Homo sapiens: one gene and its partners. The protein of the gene in region 4 purifies or fractionates together with the protein of the main gene of each other region. This does not show direct contact. Each region holds a gene or a part of one and is shown on either strand. Other genes may lie near its edges.

Evidence for each region.
Region 1: the proteins of RHOF (region 4) and TPM4 purify together in Homo sapiens (affinity purification with mass spectrometry, with the first as the bait; one large-scale study listed by BioGRID). This does not show direct contact.
Region 2: the proteins of RHOF (region 4) and PHACTR4 purify together in Homo sapiens (affinity purification with mass spectrometry, with the first as the bait; one study listed by BioGRID). This does not show direct contact.
Region 3: the proteins of RHOF (region 4) and EHD1 purify together in Homo sapiens (affinity purification with mass spectrometry, with the first as the bait; one study listed by BioGRID). This does not show direct contact.
Region 5: the proteins of RHOF (region 4) and GRWD1 purify together in Homo sapiens (affinity purification with mass spectrometry, with the first as the bait; one study listed by BioGRID). This does not show direct contact.
Region 6: the proteins of RHOF (region 4) and PFKP purify together in Homo sapiens (affinity purification with mass spectrometry, with the first as the bait; one study listed by BioGRID). This does not show direct contact.
Region 7: the proteins of RHOF (region 4) and RAP1GDS1 purify together in Homo sapiens (co-immunoprecipitation; 3 studies listed by BioGRID and IntAct, with this or other methods). This does not show direct contact.

What each region holds. Positions count from the first base shown.
Region 1 is NC_000019.10:16,082,995-16,086,494, forward strand, and holds part of TPM4 (tropomyosin alpha-4 chain), read left to right. Parts: intron 1-3,428; coding exon 3,429-3,500. UniProt on the Homo sapiens protein: Binds to actin filaments in muscle and non-muscle cells. Plays a central role, in association with the troponin complex, in the calcium dependent regulation of vertebrate striated muscle contraction.
Region 2 is NC_000001.11:28,467,240-28,470,739, forward strand, and holds part of PHACTR4 (phosphatase and actin regulator 4), read left to right. Parts: intron 1-3,500. UniProt on the Homo sapiens protein: Regulator of protein phosphatase 1 (PP1) required for neural tube and optic fissure closure, and enteric neural crest cell (ENCCs) migration during development.
Region 3 is NC_000011.10:64,858,122-64,861,621, reverse strand, and holds part of EHD1 (EH domain-containing protein 1), read left to right. Parts: intron 1-1,285; coding exon 1,286-1,698; intron 1,699-3,500. UniProt on the Homo sapiens protein: ATP- and membrane-binding protein that controls membrane reorganization/tubulation upon ATP hydrolysis. In vitro causes vesiculation of endocytic membranes. Acts in early endocytic membrane fusion and membrane trafficking of recycling endosomes.
Region 4 is NC_000012.12:121,787,189-121,790,688, reverse strand, and holds part of RHOF (rho-related GTP-binding protein RhoF), read left to right. Parts: exon of another isoform or gene 1-534; intron 535-3,500. UniProt on the Homo sapiens protein: Plasma membrane-associated small GTPase which cycles between an active GTP-bound and an inactive GDP-bound state. Causes the formation of thin, actin-rich surface projections called filopodia.
Region 5 is NC_000019.10:48,452,483-48,455,982, reverse strand, and holds part of GRWD1 (glutamate-rich WD repeat-containing protein 1), read right to left. Parts: intron 3,276-3,500; coding exon 2,958-3,275; 3' UTR 1-2,957. UniProt on the Homo sapiens protein: Histone binding-protein that regulates chromatin dynamics and minichromosome maintenance (MCM) loading at replication origins, possibly by promoting chromatin openness.
Region 6 is NC_000010.11:3,074,048-3,077,547, forward strand, and holds part of PFKP (ATP-dependent 6-phosphofructokinase, platelet type), read left to right. Parts: intron 1-3,500. UniProt on the Homo sapiens protein: Catalyzes the phosphorylation of D-fructose 6-phosphate to fructose 1,6-bisphosphate by ATP, the first committing step of glycolysis.
Region 7 is NC_000004.12:98,418,384-98,421,883, reverse strand, and holds part of RAP1GDS1 (rap1 GTPase-GDP dissociation stimulator 1), read right to left. Parts: intron 3,228-3,500; coding exon 3,093-3,227; intron 1,866-3,092; coding exon 1,740-1,865; intron 630-1,739; coding exon 490-629; intron 1-489. UniProt on the Homo sapiens protein: Acts as a GEF (guanine nucleotide exchange factor) for the Rho family of small GTP-binding proteins (G proteins) that stimulates the dissociation of GDP to enable subsequent binding of GTP.

The DNA of each region.
Region 1 (3,500 bases), on a different chromosome or scaffold from region 4:
AAAAAAAAAAAAAAAAAAAAGCAGAGTACTGTGGAGAGGAGGAAAGGAAACTTGGGATGCACAGGTGATTGTTAGCAGAGCTGTCAGGCTTTAGGCTTTTGGACGGTGACAGCTATTTCAGGGACAGTTGCAAACCAGCATGGTTAATGTACTTGCAACTGACCATGCACCAGGTGCCGTGGCTCACGCCTATAATCCCAGCACTTTGCGATGACGAGGCGGGTGGATCAACTGAGGTCAGGTGTTTGAGACCAGACTGGCCAACATGGTGAAACCCCGTCTCTATTAAAAATACACAAATTAGCTGGGCGTGGTGGCGGGCACCTGTAATCCCACCTACTCAGGAGGCTAAGGCAAGATCCCCCAGCTTGAACCCAGGAGGCAGAGGGTGCAGTGAGCCAAGATCGCACCACTGCACTCCAGCCTGGGCAACAGAGTGAGACTCTGTCTCAAAAAGAAACTGACCACGTTCCTCACCCGCCCATGGTATCTGTGCTGCAACCCAGCCACCAGTAGGGTGCCTTCTCCTCGGTAGCCAGATCATTCTCTGGCACGCCTTGGCACAGGCTCTCTGGAAGACTGAGGGTAGATTGTGTAATTCACAGAAGCAGCAGTCTGTGTGTGGTGGAAAAGGAGTTCCTTGTGTGGCAATGGTGTGGGCCCGACCAGTGATCATCGCGTCTGCCCCTCATTCACACCGGAGTTCTCACTTGAGCCAGCCACCATGCTTTTGCAGTATAAACACCTCCCAAAGATTCATTTCTTTTTTTTTTTTTTTTTTTGAGACAGGGTCTTACTCTATCACCCAGGCTGGAATGTAGTGGTGCGATCACAGCTCACTGCAGCCTCGACCTCCTGGGCTCAAGCGATCCTCCCGCCACGGCCTCCAGAGTTCCAGAGTAAAGCTGGGACTACAGGCGCATGCCATCATGCCCAGCTAATTTTTTTTTGAGACAGAGTCTCGCTCTGTCGCCCAGGCTGGAGTGCACTGGCGTGATCTCAGCTCACTACAAGCTTCACCTCCTGGGTTCACGACATTCTCCTGCCTCAGCCTCCCAAGTAGCTGGGACTACAGGCACCCGCCACCACACCCGGCTAATTTTTTTGTATTTTTAGTAGAGACAGGGTTTCACCGTGTTAGCCACGATGTTCTCAAGCTCCTGACCTTGTAATCCACCTGCCTTGGCCTCCCAAAGTGCTGGCACGCCTAGCTAATTTAAGATGCATTTCTGGTTGTGCTGCTGTGACCACTAACCAGAGATTAGAAACCAGCTAAGGAATCTTGGAGATTGCATGTCACCCAAGCTGGAAATTTCTTCCCAAGTAGTGGAACAGCCAGGGCAGAGGGAACAGACGCTACTGCAGACTCTGCTTCAGCCACTGAATCAAGGGAGAGAGTGGCAGCTCCGGCAGCCACGGGGCAGTGGAAGGACCCAGTCACGAGAGTTCCTGGCTGTGCCTGTGGCCTGGGTTAGCTGCTGTTCACAGTCAGACCAGCCTGGCTGGATGCTGACGTTGAGGGCTCCCATATTGGCAAACCAAGGGAGGCTGCGAAGGCCAGTCTCTTGTTTGCACCATGTCCCCAGAGGCCTTTGGTGACACCCCTGTTAAAGACTGCTGTGTCTCAGTAGAAAGAATTATATACTTGAAGCTTGGGGATCTAGAGTCAGCTTCTACCACTGGCACTTTCTATGGAGCCTTAGGCAAGTCACTTTGATCTCTTGGGTACTACAAGGGGTTTTGGGGCAATAAATAACCCAGAGAGCTTGCTCACATGCTGAGGGTGAGACCTCGTACAGGTGGGGGAGGGTGTTTTGAGACTTAGCTGAGAACGGGTGACACCCCACGTGAACATATTTATTGGACAGCAAGAAGCATATGGTCTCTGTGCTGGGTGGGAATGATACATATCAATGACACATTATCCCAGGCTGGCCTCTTCTTTTCTTTTCTTTTCTTGTTTTAAATACACAAGGTCTTGGCAGGGTGCGGTGGCTCACACCTGTAATCCCAGCCCTTTGGGAGGCGGGCGGATCGCTTGAGCCCAGGAGTTTGAGACCAGCCTGCGCAACATAGTGAGACCCCATCTCTACAAAAAAATATTAAAAATTAGCCAGGCATGGTAGTGCATGCTGGTAGTCCCAGCCACTCAAGGGACTGAGGTGGGAGAATCACCTGATCCCAGGAAGGCAAGGTTGCAGTGAGCTATGATTACACCACTACACTCCAGCCTGGGCAACAGAGTGAGAACCTGTCTCAAGAAAAAAAATAAATAAATACACAACGTCTTGCTCTGTCACCCAGGCTGGAGAGCAGTGGTGCAATCACGACTCACCGCAGCCTTGAACTCCTGGGCTCAAGCGATCCTCCTACCTCAGCAACATTGCAAAACCCCCACCTCCACAAAAAATTTTTTTTTAGTTTAGCTGGGTGCAGTGGTGCACACCTATAGTCCCAGCTACTCAGGAGGCCGAGGCAACAGGATTGCTTGAGCCTGAGAGGACAAGGCTGCCGTGAGCTCTCAGGGCACCACTGCACTCCAACCTGGGCAACAGAGTGAGACACCATCTCTCAAAATAAAAGAAAAAGAAAGGGGGCACAGACTCTGGAGTCAGACTGCCAAGGGCTGAGCCTCAGCTCTACCACTTACCAGCTCTGTAACCTTAAGTTACTTACCCTCTCTCTATGCCTTAGTTTCTTCATTTGTAAAATGTGGATAATTTACCTGCTCCATAGGGCAGTTGTGAAAGTGAAGGCACTTAGAAAAGTGCCTGGTAGTAAAGATGAAGGGAGGCTGGGCGCGGTGGCTCACACCTGTAATCCCAGCACTCTGGGAGGTCAAGGCGGGCAGATCACTTGAGGTCAGGAGTTCCAGACCAGCCTGGCCAACATGGCGAAACCCCCTCTCTACTAAAAATATAAAAGTTAGCCGGTCACGGTGGTGCATGCCTATAGTCCCGGCTATGCTGGAGGCTGAGACAGGAGAATTGCTTGAACCCAGGAGATGGAGGCTGCAGTGAGCTGAGATCACACTACTGCACTCCAGCCTGGGTGACAGAGCGAGACTCCATCTCAAAAAAAAAAAAAAAAACCAAGATGAAGGAAATGTGTGCACAGAGTTCCATCTTTGCAGTGTGTTACAGTGCTCAGTAGATTCAGAGACTCATTTAGATGAGAGATGGGACTAGGGGTGGTGTCTCACGCAATTAGCCAGACATGGTGACGGGTGCCTGTAATTCCAGCTACTCAGGAGGCTGAGGCAGGAGAATCGCTTGAACCCGGGAGGTGGAGGTTGCAGTGAGCTGAGATCGTGCCACTGCACTCCAGCCTGGATGACAGAGCGAGACTCCATCTGAAAGAAAAGATAGATGAGAGGTGGGTGGAGGGGTGTGAGTGAACGGCCGTCCTGATGAGATTGCTCCTTGCAGAGGAATGAAGGTGATAGAAAACCGGGCCATGAAGGATGAGGAGAAGATGGAGATTCAGGAGATGCAGCTCAA
Region 2 (3,500 bases), on a different chromosome or scaffold from region 4:
AAGTCATGAAACTGAGGCAGATGGCCATAAATGTAAACATCACTAAGATTAGATTTAAGTTTTGGGGGTTTTAACCTATTTTTTAATCTAATATTTAATCTGTTTTTCTAAAACAATGATTCCAAAACACTATACATATTTGTGTGTGTGTGTGTGTGTGTGTGTGTGTGTGTGTGTGTAATTGGACTGGATATGTGAAAACCATAACAGATTCCACCTGCATGGAATTATCTGTGGCACTTGCTGAAAAATTAGAATAATGCCTCAGCTCACAAGGGGCAAGGCAAACTTTTCAAATGAAAATTTTTAAATCTACTTAAAACTACCTATGCCTTCCATAAGCATTAATGAGTCTAGTAGATAAAAGGATGATTCTGTAGATGCCAGTGGAATTTGGGATTCAGTGTCTGGCATAGTTATCTTCACAGGGAACTGCAGAAGCTATTACTTAAATTGTTCTGATAAAATCATGTTTTATCTTGGGAGAATTAAGAATGCTATTCTTATGTTAAAATAAGTGATGGTAGAGAAAGCAGGGAATATAATCAGTAAAATTTGTATGGGTTTAGTAAATTTTTTGCATTTACCCAAAGTTCTATTTAAGTCTACTTTCTTTATATAAATGCACAATTTCTTAGAAGAATTTTCAAGAAAGGGAGAGGAAAGCTAATGAGTGCTTCAAAGCTAATAAAAATATAGTTTTTTCAGGAAAAATGATACTAGGCTTAGTATTGCTTAAAGTTCTTGTTCACGATTGAACGAATGAATAAAAACTATACTCATTAAATATTTAATATCACCATGTTGGGTGGAGTGATTCAAACCTTGAAAAACAGGCTTAGAATATTTTATGAGTATGACAGTTTGGAGTAGCTTGATGAAAACAGGATGAAGTTGTTATTACCACCACTTTGGATGGATAGTGTCATGTTGACTTATCTGTGAGGAACTTGGGGAGCTTTCACATACTTATTTTCAAAACTACCTTGTGCTGCAGGAAACCAATTTTATCTTTTCCATAGGTAGGGCAATTAGAACATGAAGACATTGTGACTCATTCAAGGTTGTAGGCCAGGCGCAGTGGCTCATGCCTGTAATCCCAGCACTTTGGGAGGCAGAGGCGGGTGGATCACCTGAGGTCAGGAGTTCAAGACCAGCCTGGCCAACATGGTGAAACGCCATCTCTACTAAAAATACAAAAAATTAGCCGGGCATGGTGGTAGGCACCTGTAATCCCAGCTACTCGGGAGGCTGAAGCAGGAGAATTGCTTGCACGTGGGAAGCAGACGTTGCAGTGAGCTGAGATTGTGCCACTGCATTGCAGCCTGAGCAACAAGAGCAAAACTCCATCTCAAAAAAAAAGAAGAAGGTTGTAGTTAGTGAAAGATAGAAACTGAACATAGGCTTTTCAACTCTCAGGTCCAGACCTCTGTTCCTTACAGTAGTGTTTGCAAACTGGTGTTCTCCTCAGGATCACCTAGAAAGCTTATGATAACAGACTGCTGGACACTACCCGTAGAGTTTCTGATTTTAGTAAGCCTGGGATGGGCTTGAGAATTTGCCTTTCTAATAGGTTCCCAGATGACACTGATGCTGCTCTCCAGGGAGCACACATTAAGAGCCTCTGCTCTACACCAGTGGCATACCACCCTTTTCAAGTTAAGGCAACATATAAAATGATAATTTGTGTATGATACCCTGGACTAAACTGCAGAGCTCATTCTTAGCTTGAGGTAAATAGCCCAAAACAATAGACCTTGTAACTGAGGAATCAGTATTAGTCCATGAGGGGTCCTCAACAAAAGAAGAAAAATAGAACAGTTCACAGAGCATTTCTTAGAGCTAAATAGATTTAATTTAAAGGACTCTCTTTTATTCTAAAATTACAACCTTCCTAATCCTTTGGTGTTAAAATGCCATTTCTTTCACAAAAGGATTATGATCATAAATGGTTTACTTAATATCAAGCCTTATTTGGAAATCTTAGAAAATGACAACCTCAAAAAAACACTAGAAAAAAAACCAACAATCTGAGGTTGATCAAGATTTTTGTTATTGTTTTGGTCACTGAAATCCAAAAGTTTGGAAATCATTGCTTCAGAAGTACTACTGTCTTCTCATCCATATAACATGGAGTATTACGACTAAGGAAAAACCACCAGCAATAGCTGAACGGGTGAAAGGGAATTATTACCCATCCCAGAAACACTCTGAAATTTTTCCACAGAACTACAGCCAGATGCTGTTGTCAGGGTATATATACCAGAATTTACTTCCTTAACATATATGCCTTCCTCAAATTACCAAATAGAATTTATTTTATTAATTCAAAAGTAAAAATATTCATTTATGGTCTCATCAGGAATGAGTTTTGTTGTAGATGGAATAGCTAACAGCTATTTTTAGAGAATCAGCAAAAATCCAATCTTTCCAAAAATATCTCTTTCACTGCTCCTAAAATTCACATTTTTAGAATCTTTTTGTGTGTGTATGCAGTGTTTTTCTAGAAAGCCTTTTTTAAAATTTATTTATGGGGCCAGGCATGGTGGCTCATGCCTGTAATCCCAGCACTTCGGGAGGCCGAGGTGGGCAGATCGCTTGAGGCCCAGAGTTTGAGACCAGCCTGGGCAACATGGTGAAACCCCATCTCTACTAAAAATACAAAAAATGATCTGGGTATGATGGTGCATGCCTATAATCCCAGCTACTCAGGAGGCTGAGGCAGGAGAGAATCACTTGAACCCGGGAAGTGGCGGTTGCAGTGAGCCAAAATTGCACCACTGTACTCCAACCTAGGCAACAGAGCGAGACTCTGTCTCAAAAAAAAAAAAATTATTTATGATGAGAGACATTAAAACATTACAAAATTAGGCCAGGCACAGTGGCTCAATGCCTATAATCCCAGCATTTGGGGAGGCCGAGGTGGGAAGATCACTTGAGGCCAGGAGTTCAAGACCAGCCTGAGCAACGTAGCAAGACCCCATCTCTATAAAATATTTAAAAATTAGCTGGGCATGGTGACATGTGCCTGTAATTCTAGCTACTTGGGAGATTGAGGTAAGAGGATTGGGTAAGCACAGGAGTTCAAGGCTGCAGTGAGTTATGATTGCACCACTGCACTCTAGCCTGGGTAACAGAGCAACATCCTGTCTCTAAAAAAAAAGAAAAGGCTAGGTACAGTGGCTCACACCTGTAGTACCAACACTTTGGGAGGCTGAGGCAGGTAGATTACCTGAGCCCAGGAGTTTGAGACCAGCCTAGGCAACATGGAGAAACCCATCTCTACAAAAAATACCCCCCCCAAAAATTAGCCGGGCATGGTGGCACATGCCTATGGTCCCAGCTACTTGGGAGGCTGAGGTGGGAGGATCACCTGAGCCCAGGGAGGTCAAAATTGCAGTGAGCCGTGACTGCGCCACTGCACTCCAGTGACACAGTGTGAGACCCTGTCTAAAATAAATTAATTTAATTTAAAAATAAAAATAAATTTAAAAAGAAAA
Region 3 (3,500 bases), on a different chromosome or scaffold from region 4:
ATACAAACAGGTGGTGGGCCAGGTTTGATCCCTGAGCTGTAGTTTGCCAACCCTTGTTGCAGAAAATAAGTGAGATTCCTGCAAAATGGGGAGCCTGGCACATCAGCACTGAAAAAGTAGCAGCTGCAGTTACTTTTGCAGGCGCCTCTTGTCACTACCGTCCCAGGGCATACAGCAGGCAGGTGGCAACACTGGAGTCTATGTTCTACCCTCTGTGCTGTGCTGAGCACAGTGCTGGGTCTCCTCCTCACTCTCGCCCTCCTCTGACCCACCTTAGAGCTTGCACTGTGGGACGACCTTTGCATTAGCACCTGTTTATGCCAAGTGCTACATGGGTTGGGGAGTGTTATGGTGGGGGCAGGAATAGGGGAGATAATCCTGCCCTCAGGGTGCTGTGCTGTCTAGATGAACACCTAGGAATTTTTTTTTTTTTTTTGAGACGGAGTCTCGCTGTGTCACGCAGGCTGGACTGCAGTGGCACAATCTCGGCTCACTGCAACCTCTGCCTCCTGGTTTCAAGCAGTTCTCCTGCATCAGCCTCCTGAGTAGCTAGGACTACAGGCATGTGCCACCACACCCGGCTATTTTTTTTTTTTTTTTTTGAGATGGAGTCTCACACTGTTGCCCAGGCTGGAGTGCAGTGGCGCAATCTCAGCTCACTGCAACCTCTGCCGCCCAGGTTCAAGCAATTCTCCTGCCTCAGCCTCTCGAGTAACTGGGATTACAGGTGCCCACCACCATGCCGGGCTAATTTTTGTATTTTCAGTAGAGACAGGGCTTCACTATGTTGGCCAGGCTGGTCTTGAACTCCTGACCTTGTGATCCACCCACCTCAGCCTCCCAAAGTGTCGGGATTACAGGTGTGAGCCACTGTGCCTGGCCTTTTCTTTTTTTTTTTTTTTTCGCGACAGTTTTGCTCTTCTTACCCAGGCTAGAGTGCGGTGGCATGGGCTTGGCTCACCACAACCTCCACCTGCTGGGTTCAAGCGATTCTCCTGCTTCAGCCTCCTGAGTGCTCGCGCCACCCTGCCCGGCTAATTTGTGTATTTTTAGTGGAGACAGGGTTTCACTATGTTGGCCAGGCTGGCCTCAAACTCATGACCTCGTGATCCTCCCACCTTGGCCTCCCAAAGTGTTGGGATTACAGGCGTGAGCCACCACGCCCGGCCTATAGGAATTTTAAAAACTATCTCAGGCTGAGAAATACCAGGCCAGGTTGGAGATGAGAGCCATCAGAGCAGCAGGTCCCTTGGCGCCCCTGAGCTCTCCCTTCTCTTCCCCCCAGGCTATGACTTTGCAGCCGTCCTGGAGTGGTTCGCGGAGCGTGTGGACCGCATCATCCTGCTCTTCGACGCCCACAAGCTGGACATCTCCGATGAGTTCTCGGAAGTGATCAAGGCTCTGAAGAACCATGAGGACAAGATCCGCGTGGTGCTGAACAAGGCAGACCAGATCGAGACGCAGCAGCTGATGCGGGTGTACGGGGCCCTCATGTGGTCCCTGGGCAAGATCATCAACACCCCCGAGGTGGTCAGGGTCTACATCGGCTCCTTCTGGTCCCACCCGCTCCTCATCCCCGACAACCGCAAGCTCTTTGAGGCCGAGGAGCAGGACCTCTTCAAGGACATCCAGTCACTGCCCCGAAACGCCGCCCTCAGGAAGCTCAATGACCTGATCAAGCGGGCACGGCTGGCCAAGGTAGACCCTGGGGTGAGGGGAGCAGCCTATTGCCAGGCAGGGCCATGGGGCTCTGAGACTGGCACTCAGGGCCCCAGGATTGCCCGAGACCCTTCCCAGCTCACTTCACAGGCAGACCTGCACTGCGCTGTTTCCCTCTATAGAAACCAGTCTTTGGTCAGCACCCGCGTGCAGCCTGCTCTTAACTAAGATTCTCTACCCGGCCTCCCTCTAAACCTGTTCTGTTTGTGGTTTATACCCCATCTACTTTCAGGAAGGGTTTGACTGTGCTTACAACACAGAAACAGCACACAGGAAGTTACCGCTGAAGCAAAGGAGGCAGCCTCAGAAATGGAGTGTTGGGGGATAGAGCTCTAAGGCTTGTTGGCTTCCCTCTAGGGTTTTTTGTTTTTGTTTTTGTTTTTGAAGCGGAGACTCGCTCTGTTGCCCAAGCTGGAGTGCAGTGGCATGATCTCGGCTCATAGCAACCTCCACCTCCCAGGTTCAAATGATTCTCCTACCTCAGCCTCCCGAGTAGCTGGGATCACAGGCACGCACCACTATGCCCAGCTGATTTTTGTATTTTTATTAGAGACAGGGTTTCACCATGTTGGCCAGGCTGGTCTCAAACTCCTGATCTCAGGTGATCTGCCCACCTCAGCCTCCCAGAGTGCTGGGATTACCCCTCTGGGGTTTACTGAGCCTGAAGTGCACTCAGCACAGTGCTGGATGCCGGGTACTGGCGGGGAGTGACACACAGCCCCTGTCCACTCCTCAGCCTTCATGGGGAAAGCAGAGCACGCAAACAAAAAATAAACATCAGTTATTTGTGTCGTCTCGGAGCGAGCACAGGCTGCTGCGGGAGCTGGCGCTAGGGGCTGTCCCAGTGGAGTAGAAGGGCTGGGGGGGCCTGGCAGGAGCTGAAGCTTAAGCTGTGACAGGAAGCAGCTCGTGAGGAGACAGGGTGCCAGCCTGCAGCCCGGGGAGCACTGTGCATGGAAGCCAAGGTCACGCTGAGGCAGTGTCAGTTCAGCAGGCCTTGCAGACCATCCTTAGGTCTCCTGGCAGCCCAGGCCTGGTGGCACCTATCAGCAGCCTCTGAATGGCCAAAGGGTTTGGAATCTCAGTGGCTGACCAAGTACTTGAGTGAGAGCCGGTGTGGGTGGGGCCAGGAAACAAAGGTTAATGCCACCAGCGGGCCCTTCCAACACAGAATGACAGAACACATGCCCTTGGCGTGTCTGACTTTGGATAGCACCCTATCGTGAGCCAGCCTAGACGAGTCACCATGAGTGACAGTCCCGGCTGTGGTTGGGGTTGACCCCGTGGACAGGAGTGTTTGACACAGATTGTCTGAACAGCTGAGAAGTGACCAAGCCCACATTTGTATCAGCAGGGCACCTAGCTATTCTTTCAGGCTCTTAGCACAGGGCTCGGTTGTTTCAGAAATAGGCTCCAGCCAGGCATGGTGGCTCATCCTGTAATTCCAGCACTTTGGGAGGCCAAGGTGGGTGGGCGCATCACCTGAGGTCAGGAGTTCGAGACCAGCCTGGCCAACATGGCAAAACCCCATCTCTACTAAAAAAAATACAAAAATTAGCCGGGCGTGGTGGTGCGTGCCTGTAATCCCAGCTACTTGGGAGGCTGAGACAGGAGAATCACTTGAACCCAGGAGGGAGAGGTTGCAGTGAGCTGAGATCACACCACTGCACTCCATCCCAGGTGGCAGAGCAAGACTCTGTCTCAAAAAAAAAGAAAAGAAATAGGCTCTGGCCAGGCATGGTGGCTCACGCCTGTAATCCCAGCACTTTGGGAGGCCAAAG
Region 4 (3,500 bases):
CTGACAGACCCCAAGGAGGGGCACCCAGGGAGAAGAGATCTGGCTGCTCCCTGTAGGGTATCCCCCCGTGACCAGGGAAGGCTTGCTCATAGGAGGAAATCCCCTGGTCAGTGAGTGCCACCAGGGAGAGCCCAGGTCCCAGTGCTTGTCATGGAGCAAGGCCTGGAAGGTGATGGAATGAATGGGTAGTGGATCCGAATGCCGGAGATGATTCATCTCGGCCTGCAGGTGGACGGCTCTCAGGAGAACAGGACAGAAAGCCATGGCCAGGCGGCCACGTAGAGAGAGGCAAAGGCCAAGAGGGTGAGGGAATGGCCAAGCCAGAAATGAGTCTAGTAAACGTAGTTGTAGAAAGTTCTAGAACCCAATGGGCCACACACAGTGGCGGAAGGGGCATCTTCCCGACTGGTGGCCACCAGAGCTGTGAGACAGGGGTGGCTCTCAGAGGCTGAATTTCTCCACACCCAGGACCAAACGCTGGTCCTGGGCAGGGGCCGGACGCTGCCCACAGGGGCCCTCGTGGAAGGCCCGTGTGGCTGTCTCCCTCCTGAGGAAGTAGTTACAGACACCACAGCGGAGGGAGGGCAGATCGGGTGACGGGGCTCGCAGGGCTCAGAAGGGAAGGGGCGGGGGCCATGGCACTCACTGCTCTGTCGGCCTCACCGGGGCCCTGACATCCTCTGAGGCAGGAAGCTGCGGTGAAGTCTGAAGTTTCCTGGGCCGGGGGAGGCGGGGTGAGGTGGGCTGTGAAGACACAGACGGGAGAGTGAGCTCATCAGGGCCAAGGTGTGGGGTCCAGGGTTAGAGGGGCACAGGATGGGATAGGGGTTGCCCGGGGAGCGGTGGTCCCCTTTTCAGCCTGAGATGGGAACAGAAAGAAAATTGTTAGGCAATGGAGTAGGATTTGCTAAGACAAGGAACCAGGGACAGATGTGTGTTGTGAGCCCCAGAAGCACCGGAGGCCTGGGCTGAGACAAGGCTGGGGTCACCCAGAAGGTGGTCTCAACTCCCAGCTGGGGCTGCCCAGCCCCTGTCTCCCTGGGAAAGCACAGGTGGGCGGCCCCCAGCAGAGTGAGTAAAAGTGGGTTCCTCTTCTGGCAGCTTCACTTCTCATGCTGCCAGTACCCCTCCCTGACCAACGCCGCAGCTGGAGCTGGGGTCCACCCGCCCTGTGTGTCCTCCTGCAGATTTGAGGTCTTTTTTCCTCAACTCTGCTCTGGGCCTTAGAGACCCCTGTCCCTGGAAGCAGGACTTCCTTGGCAAAGCCTCATCCCACCAAGAAAATAGCCCTGTGTGCGGCATGAGCCTCCCTTCCGCCCAGCCCTGCCGCACCGCCTGAGTGCACGTCAGGACGATGGGCGGCTCTAGGGGGAGCCCAGGCCTAGAGACTTCCTCACCAGAAGCACGTGCATCCTTTGCATGTAATTCCTGGGTTTTTTTTTGAGGTGGGGAATGGTTAGAGACAGGGTCTCGCTCTGTCACCCAGGCTGGAGTGCCATAGCATGATCATAACTCATTGCAGCCACAGCCTCTTGGGCTCAAGTGATCCTCCCATGTCAGCCTCCCAAAGTGCTGGGATTACAGGTGTGAGCCACCACGCCTGGTCTACCTGGGCTGTTTTAACCTCTAAGCCCATCTGCAGAGGCTGGATGGGCCCCCTCTGTGACTACGGGCAGGTGACATGGACCCTTTCAGCCCTGGTATCATTTTAGGTAGAATGTGGAGGGTAATGGTATCACCTGGTGGCTGGGAGGCCCCTGAAGCTTCTGGGTCCAAAGATTCTGGGGTTCTGACCACCCACCATGCCAGGCTATTAACTTCTCCTGGAAGTTTCAACAGTAACCACAATAGCAGTCCTCCTGCCTCCCGGCACTGCCCCCCACTCCACCCCTGCCCCTGCACTGCTCCCGCTCTAAGCATTGCCTCCCTTCTCCTGGGCTTTCACCTTCCAGATTAGGGGGAGGGTTATCACTGTTATCACCCCCTCTCCCAGATAAGGAAATTGACACCCAGAGAGGGAAATGTGGGCGTCAATTCGAGATGTGGAGGCTGCCCTGAACAGTCCTGCCCAGAATGTGCATGAGTGAATGGAACCTGACCCTCCTGACTCATATGAGAGAAGGTATTTATTAATAGTACGCTCCCCCATCCCCAAGTGGGCATGGGGTTGGTGCACACGGAAGTAGTCCTCTGCAGGCCTGGTCCCCCCACCACCCCCACGCCCCAAAGGCCCACACTGAATTCTAGGGAAAGCTGGGTTGGGCAGAGTCAAGCCAGGAAGGCAACCTGGAGGAGGTGCTGGAGTCGGAGCTGGCTGCCTCTCCCTTTCCAGAGGCCCTCTTTCTTGAGAGGGCTGACATTTTTCCTCACCTGGTCAGGGCTGGGACAAGTAGGGTGAGGATTCCTTCCTGTTTTCTGGGGTAGGCTAAGAAAAAAAAATACTCCAGTAAGGTCCTCTGTTATTTACAAAGCTTCCCCTTAGCTGTGTGGCCTGGGGCAAGTCACTCCAGCTCTCTGTGCTTCCGTTTCTCAGCCTGTAAAATGGGGCCAACAATAGTGTCTACCTTGTAGGGCTTTTGGGGGAAAGATGAGTTAATCCAGGTGAAGGGCTTTGAGCTAGACCTGGCATGTAACACAGTGGTACACACCTGCGGCCCCAGCTCCTCAGGAGGCTGAGGCAGGAGGATGGCTTGAGCCCAGGAGGTTGAGGCTGGAGTGAGCTATGATCACACCACTGCACTCCAGCCTGAGCAACAGAGCAAACCCCGCCCCCCCCCCCTTTTTTTTTTTTTTTTTTTGAGGCAGAGTCTCACTCTGTTGCCCAGGCTGGAGTGTAGTGGTTCAATCTCTGCTCCACCTCCCCAGCTCAAGTGATTCCCCTGCCTCAGCCTCCCAAGTAGCTGGGATTACAGGCATATGCCACCACATCCGGCTAATTTTTGTATTTTTAGTAGAGACAGCGTTTCACCATGTTGCCCAGGCTGGTCTTGAACTCTTGACCTCAAGCGATCCGCCCGCCTCAGCCTCCCAAAGTGCTGGGATTACAAGCATGCGCCACAGCGCCCGGTCTAGACCATGACTTTTATATGAGAGAAAGAGAGTCGATATTAACCATCTTTATTATGACTGTCATCAAGGCTCGCTCACTTTTCACATCTCCATTTCACAGATGAGAAAACTGAGGCCCAGAGGTTAATTCCCGGTTGGGAAGGCTGGGGACAGCTTCCTGGAAGAACTGGTGCTTTTAGAATGGCCTGGCAGGCAGCTGACCTTGGGGACTGGTTGGCCTCTGGCTCACAGGGTGCTTGTCTCTGACCTTGACAAAGGCCCCCTCCACCACTTGCGTTCTTAACAGGAAGAACTGTCCCCACCCAGCGCACCTCCCAGGGTGGCTGCTTGAATGAACACAGGTCAGGAAGTGGAATGCCCTTGCCAAGGCTGCAGGGCACCTAAAGCCAGAGAGATGACGATTAACCCTCTTCAACCACTCCTTCCTTTGA
Region 5 (3,500 bases), on a different chromosome or scaffold from region 4:
AGTGACAAACCACAGTCTTCTCAAGAGCACTCTGGTTTCAAACACACCTGGTATGTACGAGGCCTCGTGATGAGCTCCCGACATGCCCACAGCCCCCACTGGACTCTCAGACCCCACTGCTCACCTTGGCCGCTCAGGATGCCGGGAGGTGAAGATCATCACCCCCTTTCACAGTTGGGGAACAGGCTCAGGGAACGCCATGAGCTGGCCAGGCCCCCGCAGTGCCAGGGGGAATGCTGGTTGGGTCCTAAGCCTTTCTTTCCTTCCCAGAGTTCTGCCCTCGAAATCCTCCAGTCCCACCTCAGCCCCGTGAGGCAGACCCGTTGTCTACTTCCCAAAGCCAACGGGAACCTTCACCAGGGGGCCATCTGCGGCCAACATGGCCCAGCTCCCAGGCTGGCTGCGACTCAGGCTCAGGGCACCCCCCTCCCCTAGCAAAAGCAGGGCGGGAGGGAAAGGGATCCTCCACCTGACCTGCGAGAGCAGCTTAATGTTTCCATATAAAGGAGATACAGGGCTTAAGGTGCTTCAACTTCGTGTCAAAGTCACTGTCTAATCTGAGGCCAAGAAGCCCCGCCCCCAGGCCCCACCCTCACCCTCCCAAATCAACACTCTCACTCTTCCGAAACCAGGGGTGTTCCCCACCACTCCCCACCTACTGGTGGGGGCTGGACAGCAGGTTGGAAAGCAGAGACTACAGAAAGACAAAGAGATGCAGAGATAGGCAGGAGGAGGGGTGTTGAGAGGGTGCCCCAAGAAAAAGTACAGGGACCAAGCAGGACAGGGACCCTGAGAGAGAGGGGGACAGAGACCCAGAGAGGGCAGCAGGAAAGGGACATTGATCCAGAGAGAAAGGGACAGAGACCTTGAGAGAGGACAGAGACCCAGAGAGAGGGGAACAGAGACCTTGAGAGGATAGAGACTCAGAGACAGAGGGGGACAGAGACCCAGAGAGAGGGGGGGACAGAGACCTAGATGGAGGGGGACAGAGAAGATAGAGGCGGACAGGGCAATTGGGAAAACGAAAAGGAGAAAAGAAATGTTTTAAGAAATGGCGACATGGGGAGATGAAATTGTGAAGACAGAGAGAGGCAGAGAGAGATGGGAGAGACAGAGATGGGGGAGAGAGACAGAGACAGAGACAGACAGACTGAGAGGGTTTCTCTGAAAGGATGGAAGCCAGTGAGAAAATGCATAAAATGGGGATGGGGTGAGAGTTGGAGGCACTGAACCTGGGGGTGGATTCTCCTGGCGCTGAGCCTGTCACTGATGGGAAGACAAGGCCTTCTTGAAGGGGACAAGCTGAGGACAGGGATGCTGGGGCAGGGGTGGATGGGGGCGACGCAGCAGAGCAGGAGGGGATGGCTCAGCGGTGCCTTGCATGGAGGCACGTACCTGTTGGGGCGGCCCACCCCCATGCCCTCCGCTGGGGGCTCCTCGGCTAGGGCTGAGGGGAAGCCTCTGTGGGTGCTGAGGGGCTGTAGTCTGTCCTTGGTCCCAGGGGCCGTGTGACGGGCACCCGACCTCGGAGTCCACAGATGGATCAGAGGCTGGATGGAGGGGGGCCGGGGGTGGGGCTAGCTCAGAGCCGCAGAGGGGGAGCCAGGGAGGCCAGCCAGGCAGAGCGGCTGGGCCACAGCCCAGGCAGGCTGGACAGGAGACAGCGGCGGAGGAGCGAGACAGCGACTAGGGGGCAGGGAGACTGGCAGTGGGGGACGGGAGACTCTGAAAGAGGGGGACACAGAGAAGAAAGAAAGAAACGTGATAAAGGGGAGATGGACGGAGGGAGAAATGGGGGGTCCAGAGTTCCCTGAGATGAAGCCTTCATAAGCTGGTGGGGGTCAGGGATGAGGCCCCTTTCACTAAGCCAGAGTGAGTTCCAGATGGAAGGACACTTAGAGAAGGCAGAACGCGGCGGCACCCAGTGGGCGGAAGGTTGGGTTGCACTGGACTCCCAGTGGCCTCCCCCAGCCTAGCGGCCTGGGGGCAGCTGGTGCCAAATTCCTCCCCACCCCCAAACTCCCCCCACACCCCGTTTCCTCATAGGGCTGTGGCCAAAGGACCAGAGTCTCAAATACACCTCAGGCCTCTTCCTGGTCCTTTATTGCTGCTCAGGAGCCCTGACCTTCCTCCCGACACAGCACCAGCCTCTAAAGTCAGGGAGGAGGGGAGAGGGTCGCATGTAGCCCCCACACGGAGAAATCCTGGCCAAACCCAGCTGGCAGGAAGACAACGGGCAGAAGCAAATTGTGTTGGAGGAACCCACACCTCCAATTTGGTGCAGCCACTGTATATCCCCCGAGTCCCCTGCTGGGAACCAGCAGCCAAAACTGGGTCCTGAGCCGGACGCGGTGGCTCACGCCTGTAATCCCAACCCAGCACTCTGGGAGGCCGGGGCGGACAGATCACTTGAGATCAAGAATTTGAGACCAGCCTGGCCAACATGGTGAAACCCCGTCTCTACTAAAAATACAAAAATTAACGGGGTGTGGTGGCACATGCCTGTAATCCCAGCTACCTGGGAGACTGAGCTGAGAGAATCACTTTAACCCAGGAGGCGGAGGTTGCAGTGAGCCAAGATCGTGCTACTGCACTCCAGCCTGGGCGACAGACCAAGACTCCGTCTCAAACAAACAAACAAAAAACTGGGTTCTGGGGACACAGGTCAAATGGGTCACAGCTGACAGGAAGGAATCCGACACACAGGCCACACCAGGCCACACAAGTCTCTGGGTGGGAGTGGTCTTACAGAGCCCTGGTTAAACCGAGTTCTTTGGTGAGAGGGGTCACTGGATCAGAGCCAGGCCTTCTAGAGAACAATACGTCAAACAGAATCCATCACGGCAGCCCACAGGCCGGCCAGTCTCAGTCAACAGACCTGAATGAACCCCTTCCAGGGGAGCCCAATTCGACTTCAGTTTCCAAGCAGGAAGCAAGATCAGAGCCAGTGGGACGCCTCAGACGCTGATGGTGCGGAAGATGGTGAAGCCTGACAGCGCCGTGCTGACCAGGAGCCCTGGGCACTGCGGGTGCCAGTGCAGCTCCTTCAGCTCGGTCTCGCCCTGGTGCACGAACAGCAGCTGCTGCGGGAGGTCGGCCAGTCCGGGGTCGGCCTCCACGTCGCCCGCCTCAGGGTCCCGCTCCACTGCCAGGTCCCACTGTGTGATCTGGTGGTCTGCACCCGAGGCTGCAAAGACCCCGCTGTCCTGGGGGTGCCACTCGACGGAGGTCACGGGGGCCACGTGCTGCTTGAAGGTGGCCACTGGGGAACCAGACTAGAGGGAGAGGATGGGAGGAACGGGCTCTGAATGCCTCAGCCTGACTCTGGGGAGGACCCAGGCAGAAGCCCCAACCCTTCTCCAGCCTCAGGGTTCAGCCAGGGCCCCACCCCTTAAGCCCTCACAAGCCCAGAGTCCAGGAAAGGGACACAGGGTAATTCTGGCTGCTAAGAAGGCTGACCAGCCCAGGGGTTGCTGGGAACTGTGATTCACCTGCAAAGA
Region 6 (3,500 bases), on a different chromosome or scaffold from region 4:
CAGGCTGGTCTCGAACTCCTGACCTCAAGTGATCCACCTGCCTTGGCCTCCCAAAGTGCTGGTATTACAGGCTGGAGCCACTGCACCCAGCCTTATTTCTGTGTTTCTGTAATCATTGTGCATGTTAACAGACTGCCTTGGGTGAGTCAGGACAGGATTTTGGCAAAAGAACCAGGCCCTTTCTGCCTGGAGCTGTCACTCCTGTGGTGAGGTGCGGGTACGACGTGCCTGTAGCCTGACCTGAGAGGAAAAGCTCCTGTCTTATGAAAGGGCCCAGGGGAACCTCTGGTTGGGGCCCTTTGACCTGACCTGACAGTGAGGGAGGAGTCCGTAGAGGAGAGTGGCCCAGTGGAGGACTTTGGCTTTGCCTTGGGTGAACTGGGAAGCAGGTGGAGGGAAGCAGACTGACTGTCTCCGATAAGGGTGGCTTTGTGGAGAGGAGAGGAGGGGAGGGGAGGCCACAAGTTTAGGGTATCACAAGGAGCAGGCCACAGATGGAAGGTTATGGGGTGGGGCACGTGGCAGGGCAGCCCTGTGTCCACAGACACATCCCGCCAAGGGGACCCAGAGACTTGAGTGTGTCAGGGCTTGGGGTGAATGGGCACTCAGCTGTTACAGCTGGAAGGTAGAGCATGTGAGCTCCAACAGACACAGGCAGGTGGGGGTTAAAGGAGAATCTTCATAGCAGTGCTTAGAATAGCAAAAAGTGGGAAAACCAGCAAAAAACTATCAATAGGAGATTAATTAATTCCATTATGGCACCTGGAATGTGCCGAGACCAGCTCAGTCGGGGAGACCGTAACCCAGCGGCGCTAGAGGAATTAAAGACACACACACACAAATAGAGGTGTGAAGTGGGAAATCCGTGGTCTCACAGCCTTCAGAGCCGAGAGCCCAGAACAGAGATTTACCCACGTGTTTATTAACAGCAAGCCAGTCATCAGCATTGTTTCTACAGATATCAAATTAACTAAAAGTATCCCTTATGGGAAATGAAGGGATGGGCCAAATTAAAGGAATAGGTTGGGCTAGTTAACTGCAGCAGGAGCATGTCCTTAAGGCACATATCTCATGCTACTGCTTGTGGCTTAAGAATGCCTTTAAGCAGTTTTCCACCCTGGGTGGGCCAGGTGCTCCTTGCCCTCATTCCCATAAACCCACAACCTTCCAGCCTGGGCGTTAGGGCCGTTATGAACGTGTCACAGTGCTGCAGAGATTTTGTTTATGGCCAGTTTTAGGGTCAGTTTATGGCCAGATTTGGGGGGGCCTGCTCCCAACAGAATGGAAGGAATTTTTGTCAGCGTTTAATAAGGAGCTTTGTGCTGGTCGAAAGTCAAGAGGTACACAGTATACTCAAGGGCAGTATTGAAGAGCCGATTCCAGAGCGGCTTCCCTCTGGAGCCAGTGGGGCAGTTTGCAAATCCAGGCAGATCAGCTTCTTGGAGGTTTCTCCAACGGGAGAATCTCCCAAGAGTGAGGCTTGCATGTGGGTGGCCTGTGTTATATATGCAATTTTAAATGATCTAGTTGCCGCATTAAAGAAAGGCGGGGCAGGGGGCCGGGAGTGGGGGACTCTGGGTGCCAAGACTCAACATCTGTAATCCCAGCCCTTCAGGAGCCCAAGGCAGGTGGATCACTTGAGCCCAGGAGTTTGAGGCCAGCCTGGGCAACATGGCAAGACCTAGTCTCTACAAAAAATACAAAACAATTAGTCAGGCGTGGCGGTGCACACCTACAGTCCCAGCCCCGTGGGAGATTGAGGTGGGAGGATTGCCTGAGCCCAGGAGTTGGAGGCCGCAGTGAGCTGTGACTGCACCAGTTCACTCCAGCCTGGGCAACAGAGTGAGACCCTATCGCAAAAAAAAAAAAAAAAAAAAGTAGTGAACCCGGGAAGCGGAGCTTGCAGTGAGCCGAGATCGCGCCACTGCAGTCCGCAGTCCGGCCTGGGCGACAGAGCGAGACTCCGTCTCAAAAAAAAAAAAAAAAAAAAAAAGTAAAAACCGGTAAAAGCAAAAAACTATGTTTTATATTCAATCCACTATTTTGATAACAATCAATTATTGTAGATTATTCATATTTTACACTGTTTTCCGTAGTAAGTCTTTGAAACCCAGTGTGTAAAGAAGCTTAAAGCACATCTCCATGTGGACGGGACGCACGTGGCCAGCGGCTCCTCTGAGGGACAGTGTGGTCACGCAATGGGTGGCGTGTGCTGCCTGTATTTAGAAGGTCCCCATGTGGGTGTTTTTGCGAAGGCTCTGAGGGATGTGCAGGGGAGGGCCGACACTGTCCCAGCCACGCAGAGGACCCTGGAATGCAGCATGCTGCCGCCGCGCCCCCGCCCCAGCCCCTCTGCTACCTGAGCTCTTTCCCAGATGTCCATTTGGCTAAACTCCCTCAACTTCTTCCCTTTCCTTCTTTCTCCAAACGTCACTCTCAGGCAGGTCTGCAGGCTCTCCGATTGTCAATGGCAGCCCCTCCCTGTCCTCCACACCCTCAACACCCCCCACCCCGCTTGTTATTTTTCTCCTTAGCACTTACGGCCATCCATCCATGGGCATCATGCATTTGTTCACTGTGTTTCTTGCTTTCGGGTCTCTCCTGATCGGAACAAGCTCTTCCAGGGCCAGAGGCTTCCCATCTTGTCACTGATGCATCCACACAGAGCCCAGCAGAGGTGGCACTTGGGGCACCCGAGCTGGACAGTGGGTTGGTGGTTGAGTGAAGAGCCCTACAGATTTATCTCAAGCCCTCCCCTGACCCTACTAGAAGACACGGTGGTCTGCACAGTCCAGGAGGTCAGAGAGGCCCCCCAGTTCGATGACTTTGAACTGGCAGGGGTGGGGAGGGAACAGCACCTTGACAGAATCTGCCTTTGGCATCCCACCTCCCCATGCCTACATAATCCCTACATTATCAAAGGAAAGACCCCTAGAAGGAACTTTGGCAGCAGTAGTGAGATCAGCGCGGTGTAAGCTCATTTTCTAACAAAGCAGCGGGAGGAGTCGGCAAACTGACTTTATTTCTCAAAAAGAATTTATGCATTGAAATTAACAAGTGAGTGATCAGGAGTGTGGGAAAATTCAGGAAAAGTGGCTCAGTGCTGTGAGAGAGGGCGAGGCAGGGAGCTTTATTACTCCAGACAATGGAGGAGGTAAAAGATAGACCCAGATTATTTCATTAGAGTTCATCTATTCTTTACTTTTTTTTTTTCTTTTTTTTTTTTTTTTTTTGAGATGGAATCTCACTCTGTCACCAGGCTGGAGTGTAGTGGCGCAATCTCGGCTCACTGCAACCTCCACCTCCCGGGTTCAAGCGATTCTCCTGCCTCAGCCTCCCAAGTAGCTGGGACTGCAGGCGCTCACCACCATGCCCGGCTAATTTTTTTTTTTGTATTTTTAGTAGAGATGGGGTTTCACCCTGTTAGCCAGGATGGTCTCGATCTCCTGACCTCGTGATCCGCCCACCTTGGCCTCCCAAAGTGCTGGGATTACAGGCAT
Region 7 (3,500 bases), on a different chromosome or scaffold from region 4:
ATAATCTAGATACTAAATCAGCTGCTGAACTGCTGGCCTGGGTACTCACTATTGTGATCTTTAAAATAGCTCATTTGTTCATTTATTGGTTATCTACCATGTGCCAGACAGCGGCACAGCCAGCCACAAGAATGGATTTTTTTCTAACTCTGTGAGCTCTGGACATCATATACTATCTAGGTACCATTTAATTTCTAAATATCAGTAGGCTGCATGGTCAATGCCTGGCACAAAGAATGTTTGACACTGATGCTGATAACGGTGGTGGTAAAAGTAATAACAACAATAGCAGCAGCAACAACAGCAACCCCCATTTACCGAGTGTTTCCTATATCCCATGTATCAGCTAAGCACATTATATACATGATCTCACTGAATCTTCACAATACTTTCAGGTAAATATTATCCCAGTTGTTAGGACCTACAATGCTGGGTTTCTGAAAAAGACACTCTGAAGTTTTCTAGTGAACAGTTTCCTCTGGAACTTACTTTTGATTTACTGTGTCGTATAAGGGCAGACAGCAGTCTGTTTGACTCCCCCATCACACCAGCATGATCTTTGGCTTCACACCATTCCACCAAACGCTCCACTAACTTAACATTCTTTCCCAATTGTTCAGCAGCTTCTGCTATAGGAAAGAAGGCAAACCAAGGAATGAATCACTAACAGACAATCAGTTGAAATAATTCGTACAGATTTGAGAGTGTGAAGGACGTCTAAAAAAACACAGCACGACAATTTCATTAAAGCTAGAACTGCAAATATTCCTTATGTGATGGGCTATTTGCCTTCTTCTGTAACACTGTGAAATTTTATAGAAAATACAACAACAAATGACTTCATACTCTTTTGGTTAAGCCTGCTAGTCTGTTAGTGCTCTGGCGGACTATAATGCAGGGTTCTTAGAAAGACTCTATGCAATCAATATAGAAAAGGGTTTAAAATTTAGAAATAAGTAAATAAACATAATTCATTCCTAGGAGTGGTTCTGACTGCTGTTTCTGCAAACAGAAAAATGCTCTCCCTGTCTGGAAGACAAATTTAAAAAATTTTTGACTGTCACAATAATGAAATTTGATTTCAAAGCCAAGGTAAAAATGGGTATAGAATGCCAAAACACAACACCCCCTGCCGAAACTGATGAATAAAGCAACCTAAAACCAGGACTATAAGTACTAATAAGGAGAGATATGGTATAATTTCTATTTAAAGTCAATTATAGGCTGGACATGGTGGCTCACACCTGTAATCCCAGCACTTTGGGAGGCTGAAGTGGGTGGATCGCTTGAGGCCAGGAGTTCAAGAGCAGCCTGAGCAACAAGCCCCATGTCTAGTGAAATTCCAAAACAATTAGCCAGGAGTTGTGGAGCATGCCTGTAATCCTAGCTACTCAGGAGGCTGAGGCAGGAAAATTGCTTGAACCCAGGAGGCGGAAGTTGCGGTGAGCTGAGGTCGCACCACTGCACTCCAGCCTGGGTGACAGAACAAGACTCTGTCTCAAAAATAAATAAATAAACAAATAAATAAATAAATAAATAAATAAATAATATGTATAAATAAATAATTATAACAAGCATAAAAATTAACAAATGGAGTTCCAAAACCAACTTTTAAATCTTTTATTTGCTATTTTTTATGATTACATAATCCTAAAAGCTAAAAACAAGTCCTTTTTCAACTAGAGGCACATTAAGACTATCATATGAAAAATGCAAGTTGGGGAAAACATTTCTTTTACCTTGTGCATCTATTAACATTCTTAATGTTCCCAGAAGTTTGAACTGAACAGGAGGCATTTCAGATTTAAGAAATTTCAAAACTGCCTCTGTGACCCCAGCTGATAACATCTTTGCTTTATTTATAACTGGAGAAAAAGAGAGACTATGGTTAAAATGGTATTAGCATTCCTGTTGATAAACATTCAATTCAATACAGGTTTATTAAGTATCTTTAAGATCCATGTTTTATTTTTCCATTTAGAAACAATCTTGTCACTTTTTTGTCAATTTTAAGAATGGAATTCAGTTGTTTATGTGTGTGTCCGTATCCTATTTGTGTATAAGCGGATAACAGACAATATAATAATTTTTATGACAGTATCATGGCTTTTTAGATCCAATCCAAAACACTTACTTACATAGTTTGTAAAGGAAATCTGAAAATGTTACCCTCTTACAACAAAAAGCACAATTCCGTTTTTGATCCAACTGTGTTAATATAAATGTTATAGACATTAATAAATGTTACTATCCTATGTAAACCAAATGAATTCAAATGGATTGGATCATCATGTAATTGTACTATTTCATCTAATCAGAAATTTATTTTTAGAAAGTAGGATAAAAGAATAGTTTTAACTATCTTTTGTTGTATTTTCCATAATACAGTGATTTCATGACTTCCAAAGGCACATTAAGGCTATTTTAAAAAAATTGTACATCTGCTTATAGAAAAACAACAACTGAAAGTCATTCTTGAGTGGACTCTGTTAATTGATGTCATTATTCTACCTCAACTAAAGATGCCTAAGGCCTGGTGCAGTAGCTCTCACCTGTAATCCCAGCACTTTAGGAGGCAAAGGTGGGTGGACTGCTTGAGCCCAGGAGTTCAAGACCAGCCTAGGCAACATAGTGAGATCCTGTTTCTACAAAAAAAAAAAATCAGCTGGGCATGGTGGCACATGCCTGTAGTCCCTGTTCCTCAGGAGGCTGAGGTGGGAGGATAACTTGAGCTCAGAAGGTAGAGGCTGTGGTGAGCCAGGACTGCGTCACTGCACTCTAGCCTGGCTGACAGAGTGAGACCCCATCTCAAACTTAAAAAAGCTTAACTATAAAACATGATGAAAATCTAACAGTTCGCAAAAGGTAACAGGATATCTGAATGAAGGCAAAGATTATTCTTGTACAGTCTCACAAAACTTATTTAACATATGATCTCCATTTATTAGCATGAAAAAATGTGAACAATGTGAAGACTATTTTTTTTTAAATTTTCTTCATCAGAGCAGGTTCACAAATCACATACAGTTAATAGCTTCCCCAAATGATGGATTTTATTTTGTACACAGCTGCCTTCTATTCTTAAGTCTTACCTGGAATGGCCAGGTTTCTGAGGGCACTTAGTGCTGCATGCTGTACTGTTACATTTCCATCTTCTACATGTCTGTCCAGTAAATCCATAAGTTTTTCTACAATCCCATTGTCTACCATATGAATACAATTTGCATCTGAAAAAAAAAACACACATCTTTTTCTTCCTCTTTAAAATATCTATAAATACTTTATAATACTGATGTCTGGCTATTATCTACATTAGGGAAAATGGAGCTATACAATAAAATGAATTCCAAATCTTTCTCCCATCAGATTTATAGGTTTTTCTGTTTACTGAGTGAGAAGTGTTAAAAAAAATTCTTAAACTAGATAAAAGTTTTAAAATCAGAAAATTACCAGAAAAATCTTTAGTTTAGAGCCAGATAATATATCAGAAGTAGAAACAC